Linked DNA regions of Homo sapiens: region 2 is reported to be linked to region 1. Evidence: microRNA targets listed by miRTarBase, many of them from high-throughput screens and not tested one by one. Region 1 holds a microRNA gene; the other region holds the end of a gene's coding sequence.

Region 1 (5,366 bases):
TTATATGGTGATTCATTCAATAAAGTCTCAATTCTCAAAAGAAAAAACAAATAAAGGAAAACACTTGCCAGCTGTTCCACCATCTGCGCACATACCCTCTGCGAGGGGCTGACAGACACCCACACTGTGTTCCTGAACTTCACACCACGTACAGCAAGTCCTTCAAGGAGGCACTCAGTGCTTTAGGAGGTCCACTGTGGGGTATCTGCCACACACAGAGTGAACACATCACCAATAGCCTCCCTCCAACCATTCCTGGCCGGCTTCTGGGGTGCTGTCTCTCTTCCAGAGCCCAGGGTGTCCTCCTGCAAAGGAAACAGACGGCAAGGGTTAACACACAAGGATACGTACCATCAGAGATGCAAGGCTTCCTTGAGGCCCTCCTCTGACGTACCTGAGGTGATGGAGGCAACAGTGACCCTCTCCTGACATAAGCAGCAGTGAGAGCAGAATCCCCCCTCGATGGGAGACAAGGATCTGGTCGAAAGAGAACTGTCCATGTCGCGTCATCCAACAACTGTGCTTCCCCTTCCACAGGGGACTCAGAGCCAGTGTCCCCTCCAGAGGTCCTCAGGCTGAGGGTCCACCGGCCAAGTGGCACGTGTCATATACAGACTGTGGGGCCTGCCTTCTGCTCCCACAGCTGCACCTTCCCTGAAGTGGGCACCCCATCATTTAGAAAGGTGGCACTCAAATGAGTAAAACAGGTTGACTATGCAGGCCACAGCTTGGACAGCCTTTCTTGATGGAATGTCCTGACATGAAGACCGGTGCTGCTTCTCCAAAGTGTTTCTGCCACCGGGAAGTTCTCTGGAGGGAGGCCAGAGCCCAAAGGATGGGTGGAGCAGCTGCCCACTGTCTGAAGGGCACCTGCTGAGGCCAGCATGGTCCCAGTGTCACCAATGGACTGCCGTTAGCATCTCCTTCCAGAAGTGGGTTCTGACCTTTCCCGATGGCACATGATTCTCAAATAGAAGTGCACCATATTTTTCATCATAAATAAAGGGAAAAAACACAGATAACCTCTCCTCCAGTACCAAAGTGTAGCCCGGAGAGCAGTCCCACAGCCTCTAGTTCTGGCTGGCAGAGCTCCAGGAAGCCCTCCTGGGGGACAGGGATGCTGAGGTTCGGGGGACAGGGATGCTGAGGTTCAGAGGACCAGGTGGCCGTGGGGATGACGCGTATGCTCTCTGGGCAACACCCATCACTCACCCCAGAGAGCTGCTGATGCCACCAAAGCTCCCAGCTCAAACAGCCTTTCCCTTCAAGTGGGATTTGATACTGAAAAAAGAGTGGCCAAAAATGATTCGTCACAAATAAAATGAACACACTGGGGAAACCTCTTCTCTTCCAGGGCCCAAGGATGGACTGAATGTGGGGACTGGACACCCGGACAGCAGTGTCTTCGGGAAGGCATGTGTTCTGCCGTCAGCCATTGTTCACTGCTCCCGATTTGGGGCAGACACCAATGTCAGACACCATCTCTCTGATGCTGGTGATCAAGGAGCACATCTCTCAGAGGCAGAACTGGCACCTAGAAAGAGTGGGGCGGGGGCTGGGCGCACTGGCTCATGCCTGTAATCCCAGCACTTTGGGAGGCCAAGGTGGGTGTGGATCATGAGGTCAGGAGTTCAAGACCAGCCTGGCCAACATGGTGAAACCCCGTCTCTGCTAAAAATACAAAAAATTAGCTGGGCCTGGTGGCGGGCGCCTGTAATCCCAGCTACTTGGAAGGCTGAGGCAAGAGAATCGCTTGAACCTGGGAGGCAGAGGTTACAGTGAGCCAAGATCGTGCCATTGCACTCCAGCCCAGGAGACAGTGCGAGACTCTGTGTCAAAAAAAAAAGAAAGAAAAAAAGAAAAGAAAAGTAAAGAAAGAGCGGGGCAGGGAGGATTAGGCTCCAGTAAATCACCACTCTGAGAAATCCCATCTCCCAGAACCACAGGGACGCCTTCTGCCACAATTGCTACCCCCAATCAATTCTTCTGTGGAGGTGCGGGTGGCAGTCCCCCAGATGGCATGTCCTCATGTCCCCTTCAGCCATCCCCTCAAGCCTCTGGAGAGAGCGGATGGGGGCAGGGGTCTTCATTGCTTATTTGTTTTTGTTGTTGTGGCAGCTGCTTCCTTTTTTATTTTTTTCTTGGCTGCTATGATCTGAACTCTTCTCAAATGTTGGGGAACGCTTCTCAATGGAGCCTGGAAGTGCATCTCCCCAGCCTCCCTGGCAGCGGGGAACTGGCATGTGGTTGAGGCCTCGCCAACTGTGCCTGTCCGAGAGGTGGGCGTGGACTGAGGACTGAGGACTGAGCATGGTCCCTGAGCCCACCAACACACAAAGTCACCGAGGGGCTGCCAGGACAAATCCTCCATGTACATACCAAGAGAGGTAGTGACACCAGGTCCCATGCTCAGGGTCCCGTCGGGGATGGAGGCACTTCAAGGAGATATTTGATACCGAAAAAGAAGTGCACCATGTTTGTTTCGTCACATATAAAGCGAAAATAACATGGGCAACTTCTTTTCAGGTACCAGAGATGAGCACGTCCTCCCTGCCAGAGGCACACCTGGGCGTGAAGGGACACTGAGGGTCAGGGCGTGAGGGCAGGGCCGGGCAGACGCTGCCAATCAAACTTATGCTCAATTAAGCCTAAAAGCATCAGGTAAGTTGGCTCACCCCAGGGGAGGTGGGGGACATGCTTCGAAGGGCTGGGCTGACACTGAGCAGAGGCGGACAGTCATCACGGATAAAGCAAACCGATCCCAGACTCCCTCTACTTCGGGATCCCAGGAAGTCTTCATGGGCAGAATTCAATAATCAGGGCAGACGGCTTTCGGAATGTTTACTATCAACCCTGCAAATGCTCATGGAGAGCATCACTTCAGAGAAAATGGGATGGTCCTGGACCCAAAAATAGAATCTCCTCCATGAGCCCATGGTTCCAGGAAGGAGATGGGAAGACAAAGATATCGAATCAGGAGAAACAAACCACCAAGGCAGCCCCGGCTCTCGGTGGACCCATCTCTCTGTGCACCTTGCATGGTGCTGACCACTGCACCTCCTCTCTAAAGTGCTCCGGGTTCCCTGGAGGCATGGCTTGGTTCTAAAACACTGACAGTTAAGTGTGAGTTGTGACAAATACAGCCAACCCACAGAGAGCCAAAGGACAGCAGGGGCCAGGAAAGGACAACGGCTTCCCCAAGTCCACATCACTTGCAGGGCAGCCTCCCAGAGAGAGGTGGATTCGAGGGAGAGTGAATCGGGGCAGAAGTTCTGGGGCCCACCATCCATCAGGCCTTCCAGAGAGGACCCAGTGACCCATTGCTGGACACAAAACACGGTAATTGTGCATCATTTGTCAACCATAAATTAAATCACTAAGACAAAGCTTTGAAAGCATAAGTCCATAAGAAAAGTCACCTTCCACCAAAACCCTGCCTTAAATAGGACACTGAAGATAGATAGGCAAACCGTGAGAAACACATCATTGAAAAAAATGCAGGCTTTCCCAGTCACACTGGAAAACACACTGTGGTATCATCTGTTTGTATTGCAAGTAAGATAAGATCTAACTCCAACTGGCTTAAACAAGTAAGGGATTTATAGACGTATATAACTAAAAAGTACAGAGACAGAGCAAGCTTCAGGCAGGGTTTGATCTAGGGACTCAAATGATATCATCCAGGCTCTTCTCTAGGTCTCCAAGATGCCTTTCATGGTACAGACTCCCTCTGCTGTGTCTGCGTGGCACCAAGCCCTCTCCTCTCAGTCCTTAAACGGCTGTGGGACCTTCGAAGCTCACGTCAAAGTTCACTGTCTATTCCCAGCTGAATGGAATAGACAGTGTCTACTCTGGCAGCTATCACAGGAAAGGGAGAAACAGTTTCTTTCCCAGAAGCTGCAGCAAGCATCTCCTTGCCTATCACTGGCCCAGTGGGGTCATGGGCCTATTCCGGAAGCAATTGCAGTGGCAAAGGAGAAGAGATCAAGAGATTCGCTTAAGCCTGGGCTGGTGGAGGAAGTGGGGCAGGGTCAATGCAATCAAAGCACACGGCGGGAAGACGGGAGCTTTCATAAAAAAAAAAAAAAAAAAAAAAAACAAGGAGAAATTTAGGAAGGAGAAAAGACATGGGGTAGGGAGGTCCTGATCAGCGTCCACTACAGGGGCCCATGTGCCTTCCCTGAAGTTGCACCCAAACCAAGACGTCTTCAAGGCAGAATAGGATACTGAAAAAGAAGTGCACCGCGAATGTTTCGTCACAAATAAAGCGAAAAAAACACGGGCAACTTCTCATTAAGTACCGCACGTCAGCACCGTTGACAACACTGCTTCTCCGCGGCTGGTATCACTCCTGCGGGCTTCCTGAGAGCACATGGGTCCTGATGCGCACCGGGCAACCGGTGACAAAGATATGGCCGTGCATACAACCCCCTCAAGACCTGGGAGACATCTAACAGGTCTGCCCCCTCTGCACAGGTGGCATTGTGTCCTGGAGCTGCTTGTGAGCACGATGTGTTCAATTTCTCAATAACAAAAAGTCTCCTCCAGTAGCACAGAATATGACAATGGCACAGAAACAGTGATTTTGCATCCTAAAAGTCCTCCTGAGGATACATGAGGAGGGACCAGGAGAGTCACAATAACTCCCCAGATAAGATGGATGAGATCTACCACCCACCCTTTAGGGACAAACAGCAAAGTGTCTGCCCTGATGGAGCCTCTGAGCCAAGGGAGTCGTCATAGAATGGGTAGCGCAAGGGATTTTTTAACATTTGCCTCAAACAGATGGAATGACCAGGGGTCCTGGCACAGCGTCACCACTGTCGATCAGCCTGAGCCGGAGAAGAGCCCCCGGGGCAGACCGGAAGCTGCGGGTTAGGGAGGGATGAATGAGCAATGAATAAAACCCAAGTTCTCAGGTGGTCCACGTGGACAACTGACTTGGTGGTGGCAAATCCTCACCGGTTCCTGCATTCACACCTCACCACAACCCCCTCCCGGGTGGAGTGGGCCTCCCCGCCCCTTGCCTTGGGTTCGGCCGTGTAATTGTTCTGGTCAATGATCTGTGGGTAGAAATATAGCAGTTCCCAGCCTTGGCCTTAAGGAGTTTCTGCGTTTCTAATTACTTTCTTGTGCCTCTGCCGTAGCCATGGGAGCATACCAAGGCCGGGGTGAGAGCTGTGGGTCCCAACTTCAGCCCTCAGGGCAGGCCTTCTCTCCACAAGCCATCCTAGGTATGGGAGGGAGACTGAGGATGAACGGACCAAGACACACACCCGAAATAGAATGTCTGCTCTCAGACAAGATGTCCACTCCCATACCTCTCCATGGACCTGACGCCAACAGCCCTCCCCTGAAGCGCGTGT
Region 2 (5,366 bases), not on the chromosome of region 1:
GCACACACATGCATTCTCTTGCACACACACGTGCACTCAAGACCTTCACACTCCTGCCTGGACGAGGGCACCCACGAGGTGCAGGCCAGCTGCAGAGCCAGGCACAGGACAGCGCCCCCTGCAGCCGCCTCTGTTCCTAAGTCCAAGACCCCCAGGAGCCCACAGTTGGGTCCCCCACGGGAGGGGGGGCTGCATTGCTCCAGCCTCCTGTGTGGCTTAAGGGGCCCTCCTTCCATGGCGTGAAGGGGCAGAGTAGCCCGGGGGATGTCCTCAGGCTGGGGCCTCCGTACTCCTGCATGCTGTGGCCTGGCTGTAGGTGGACCCGGCCCTGAGCCCGGAGGAGGCCTTGGCCCGGCCCTGGAGGGTGGCTGGTTTGTGTCCTTCAGGTCCTGGGTGCGTAAGGTGCAGGTAGGGCCTTGGAGCTGTGGCTCCTGGGGGTGGCAGAACTCTGCCTGGCCCAATGCCCAAATGCCGCTGGTGTGGGCATGGGAGGCTGTGTGTACGCCCCTCCTCAGAGGAGACATCCCCTGTCCTGAGCCTGGAGAGTTCGGGGGCTGCCCCTCCCTCAGCCTCAGCCAGACCTAGAGCGCAGGGGCCCCCAGCCAGCGGCCCCTCCTTAGCCCCTCCCTATAGGCTCTGTCAGGGCACCCTGTACTGTCCCATTCTGCCCCCAGGGCTGTTGGCTCAGCCAAGTGAGGACCACGCGGAAGGCGCCCCTGGCTGCGTGCGCCATGCAGGGGCCCTGCTGATGCCTCCCCCTTGTCTCCCTCCAGTACACCTCCAGCATGAGAGCCAAATACCTCGCCACGAGCCAGCCTCGCCCTGACTCCAGCGGCAGCCACTAGACCGCGCCCGGCAGCCACCCACCCCACGTGCCAACTTCCCCTCCCCGTGCCAGCACTGCCGCTTCCACCTGGGCCACCCACCGGACCCTCGCACGCCGTGCCAGGCCTGCCCCAGACGCGTCTGCAGGCCGCTTGCCCTCCTGTCCCCTCCCCGCAGGGGCACAGTGGAGACGCAGGGGCTCTGGGCCCGTACCGCCAACTCGGGTCACACCTGAACGCTGCTGCCAGCCGATGCCCCAGCCCTGCACGCCACCCACTATCCCGGCACGCTCCCTCTGCAGATGGTCGCCGCACCTACAAGCCCTGGCCGCACCCAACCTGTGTTGTTGCCGCCCGGCCCTTCCCTCCACAGCTCTCCTTCCTCCCGCCCGGCACTTCTGTGGACCCCTTCTTAGTTCACAGGCACGGCTGGGGCCGCTCTGTGCTGGCGCCTGCTGGCCACTGAGGGACAGGGACACGTGCCACCTGCTCATCTCTGCCCTGAGGTCACCCCGTGGTCCCTCCACGTGCCCATCTCTCTGCAGTGCCCTCCTCGCCTGTGCAGCCCGCCCACCCACAGGCTCACCCCTCCTGCCGGCTGCCAGAGGCCCCCTCCAGCAGGGCCTCTCTCCGTTGCCCCAGCTTCACTCTCTCCCTCAGCACCTGCCCTGCTGGAGGCCCCAGCCCTCCGTGGACAGCAGGGGCCACGTGGAGCCCGGGCCGCTCACCCGCCACCCAGTGCTGGCCGCCTTCTTGGTGCCAAACCCCCTTCCCCCACCCAGAGACTGGGCAGCTGTGTCTGGTTCGTTCTTTGCACTAACCACATTTGTCATCTCTAGGGCAGGCTGGGGCTGCGGGCTGAGGGGGACCGCTGGCACCCCCCTTCCCTCCCTTCTTGGTTCCATTTCCATCCATGACAGGTACAGCATCCCAGGAGCCCGGCCTGAGGGGCTGGACCCGAGCCGGCTGTGAACATCCCTCAGCCCCTGCTGTCCCCCCTTGGGACTAACCACTAACCTCACCCCCAAACTCCACGGGTGCCCCTAGCTGGCCCAGAGCCGGCAGTGTGAGCCCAAGTCCGGGCTGGAGCCGAGGCCGGAGCAGCTGTCTGGGAGTCAAGGCTGCAGTAGCGTTTCTTCATGGGGTGCTCCAGGGGGTGCCACAGACCGACAGGCAGCCCAAGGGCCTGGACACCCCTCCCCAGGCAGGTGCTGCCCCAGGAGGACTGTCCTCGGGAATGAACCTCCCGCGGGCTTTGGACTGAGGTCCCTGTGGCCTCGGTCTCCTCCCCATGAAGTGGGAGCGAGGCTCCCCAATGGTGCTTTTGGCTTTAGTGTACGATGTTTGCTGTGCTTCCCGCCGTGGAGGGCAGAGCCACCCCACATCAGGATCGGACGTGCTACCCCTCCCGGTCCCGGCCCTGGCCCAGCCAGCCCAGCCCTCGAGGCTCGATGCCTGTGCCAAGGCCAGGGGCAGCCAGAGGGCAGCTGGATGGCCACGTGCAGGGGTCAAGGCTGGGCCCTGCAGTGGGGCGGGCCGCCAGCCCCAGCAGTTTACAGACGCATGGCTCTTCCTCCCAGAGCAGCCGGCAGCTACCTGGACCGGAAATGTCCTCATCCCCTCCCTGGGGCCAGGCTCTGCCCTGGCCTTCCTCTGTGAACCCCTCCTTTCTTTGTGCTGGTGTCTGGGACCAAAAAGGGGGAATATGGGAGGGCAGAGTGGGGAGGGGAGTCCATGGGCCTGGGGCCCCAAGCCGGGGCGTCTGAGCTCCCCAGGCATGACCAAACCTCAGTGGAGGGGCCTCTGCTTCAGGCCCCGCCTGGCTGACATTCTGAGCCCCCCTCGGAGGCCCCGCCACAGCCAACCTGCCCAGTCTTTCCTCTGGGCTTGACCCGCCAGGGGAGTTCTCCAGGCCTAGGGCCAGGAGAGAGGCCCTGGCACCCTGGCGTGGGTGCCCGCCAAACGCCCTGCGACCGCTCAGAAGCACAAATGCTGTCCATGGCCGTGAGGCTGCCTGCCAGGTGAATGGACATAGCGTGAGAGGCGGTGAGGCCAGGGCTTCCAGCCTCGTGCTGTCTCGGGACTCCTGACCGTGGTGTGCGTGTGTGCCCGTCTGTGACTTTCTACTCACCAAGGTTGAAGAAAGGAAACGGGGAAAATCAAAAGGGGTTCAAACCCCACCTCAGTAGGTGGAGGGGAGCGCCTGCCATTGGTTGTATTTTTGTTCTGAGTTTTCGGTGCCGTGTTCCTAACTACTCCATCCCATGACCTCGCCACACCTACTGGGGCATCTGGCTGGTGCCTGCTGCCATGGCCAGCCCCCACTCTCACCCTGCACAGGGGGTCTTGCAGCCCCCAGGCCCACAGCCTCGTTGGGAGGACAGGGTGGCCCTGGGGACAAGAGGGAGGAGCCCAGGGGCTTACCTCACTGAGAGTGCTCCCCAGCAGGCATCCACTACCCCAGGGCCCCCCACATGTCATGGCAAGGTTGGTAGTGAATGGGCCTGGTTGGGAGCAGCCCCTGGCCCATTGCCCACCCACCCATCTCACTATGCAATTCGAGTTCCAAGCAACATTTGCTCCTGCCCTGGGGCCAGCTCTGCCCCAGCCCTGAGAGGGGTGGTGAGGCAGCCCCCTGGACCCCAGAACCCCAGACAAGGGGGCAGGCGGGGGACCAGGGCCTCTCCTGTGGGATCTTTGTTTTGTGTTTAACCATAATGGTTGTGTACTGAACCACTTCATATTTGTTATATATAATATATATATATATAATCTCCTTAAGACTCAGCCTCCTGGTTTACCCCCCCGGCCTGGGCATCTGACCTCCCCCACCCCAGTGTGATTTAACATCCAGGAACTGAGGCCTGAACCATTTTGCATTTCCCCCTCCTCCAGCCTCTGTAGGGCCATGGCTGTATGTACTGTCGCTGTGTTTTTTTGTTTTTTTAGAACTGGGTTTGGGGGCTGATTTTTATTTCTTTGGGGGCTTTTTTTCTTGGCAAATACTAAAAATCTCGTCAATGTAATTTCTGTGGTTTCTATTCAGCTTGGGTTTCATGTTTTAAAATAAATTTTAAAAAGCAAGCCTCTCTTCCTGAGCTGCTTTGGCTCCTGGCTGGGCGCTGGTAGGGAGTCCACGGCTCCAGGCAGGGGCATTGGGGGAACAGGGGGACACTGAGGGTGGGGCCGACCAGGTCAGCTCCGAGGGGTCGGCTGGGCGGGGCCTCTTGTGGTTGCGGGCGGGGCCTCTCGGGGTTGTGGGCGGGTCTTCAGGGGTGGGCGGGGCCTCGGAGTGACTGGGCGGGGCGCCGGGGACAGGCTCTCCAGGGATGGGGTGGGCGGGGCGCCGGGGAAGGCTTTCCAGGGTTGGGGTGGGCAGGGCTTCTGGAATGAGTGGACGAAGGCCTTGCAAAATGGGTGGCCGAGGCCGGGCGCGGTGGCTCACGCCTTTAATCCCAGCACTTTGGGAGGCCGAGGTGGGCGGATCACGAGGTCAGGAGATCGAGACCATCCTGGCTAACACAGTGAAACCCCATCTCTACTAAAAATACAAAAAATTAGCTGGGCGTGGTGGCGGGCGCCTGTAGTCCCAGCTACTCGGGAGGCTGAGGCAGGAGAATGGCGTGAACCCGGGAGGCGGAGCTTGCAGTGAGCTGAGATCACGCCGCTGCACTCCAGCCTGGGCGACAGAGCGAGACGCCATCTCAAAAAAAAACAAAAAAATGGGTGGGCGAGGCGCCGGGAACGAGATCTCGGGGCATGGAGTAGGAGGAGCCTCTCGGAGCGAGTGGGCGGGGCCACGCTCGCTGGGTGGGCGGCTTCTGGCGGGCTCAGGGCGTCGCTCAGGGCGTCGGTGTGCAAAGCAGCGATGGACCCGAGGGTCTGGAGCTGGGAGTGCTGATCCGATCGACGTAGTGAAAGCCTCACTTTGCTGTCTGGACAAGTACTGCCAGGGGCCCGCGGGGACCGGGATCGCTGTGCAGAGGCCCCACTGGCCCTCAGGAGAGGTGAGGGTGCCTGGCCAGGAGCAGGGATGATGGAGGCGTCGAGTGGCCGGGTTGGAGCAATGATGGGTTCCGGGCCGAGCTCTTCCTGAGCCCCCAGTGGCCATCACTCCCCGTCCTTCCAGAAGCAGCATGGAGGCGGGTTCCCGTGCTCCCCGGCCTGGGGGTCCTCTGGCGCCCTTCCTGGAGGCCCGCACAGGGCCCACGTGTTTCAAGGACCCTCCCCACCCCAAGCTCCTGCTAAGAAGCAGGCTTGGGAAGGCACATAACCCTGTAATAACACACTCACCCCACAGGGAGATGTTAGGACCTCCGAAGTTGGGGGAGGCCCCCTTTTGACCAGCAGAGCACAGGCTTGGAGCACAGGTGGTGAGGGAGCCACCAGGCCCAGCAGAGGATGCGGGGGCTCTCTGTGGCTCCCAGCTCTCAGGGCACCTGTGGGCACCTGTGTATGTGGGCGGGGGGGGGGGGGGTTGGGTCCGCTGGGCAGGGCCCCTTCCTCCTGCCACCAGCAGCTTTGCCCAGTGTGCTTGGATTT

The links. The annotated mature microRNA hsa-miR-495-3p reads AAACAAACAUGGUGCACUUCUU and lies in region 1 at 2,462-2,483, opposite strand. An mRNA with a match to its seed (bases 2 to 7 or 8) in the 3' UTR can be bound and repressed. Matches are read on the target gene's strand: a 7mer-m8 pairs with bases 2 to 8, a 7mer-A1 pairs with bases 2 to 7 and ends in A, and an 8mer does both.
Region 2: miRTarBase lists TTYH3 as a target of hsa-miR-495-3p. Seed matches in the 3' UTR shown: 7mer-A1 at 3,568-3,574.

The regions. Positions count from the first base shown.
Region 1 is chr14:101,030,921-101,036,286 of GRCh38, reverse strand. It overlaps MIR495 (microRNA 495), which reads right to left and starts at 2,532; the gene lies at 2,451-2,532. LOC124903407 (mucin-2-like) reads right to left here. Exons shown (of 5, transcript XM_047432049.1): 5 at 1,805-5,366. It overlaps MIR543 (microRNA 543), which reads right to left and starts at 4,300; the gene lies at 4,223-4,300.
Region 2 is chr7:2,660,895-2,666,260 of GRCh38, forward strand. It overlaps TTYH3 (tweety family member 3), which reads left to right. Exons shown (of 14, transcript NM_025250.3): 14 at 774-3,908. The coding sequence ends at 845. Among named protein-coding and RNA genes, the nearest start is that of AMZ1, 25 kb to the right of the region's middle. RefSeq lists enhancers at 68-137, 218-317, 3,981-4,275.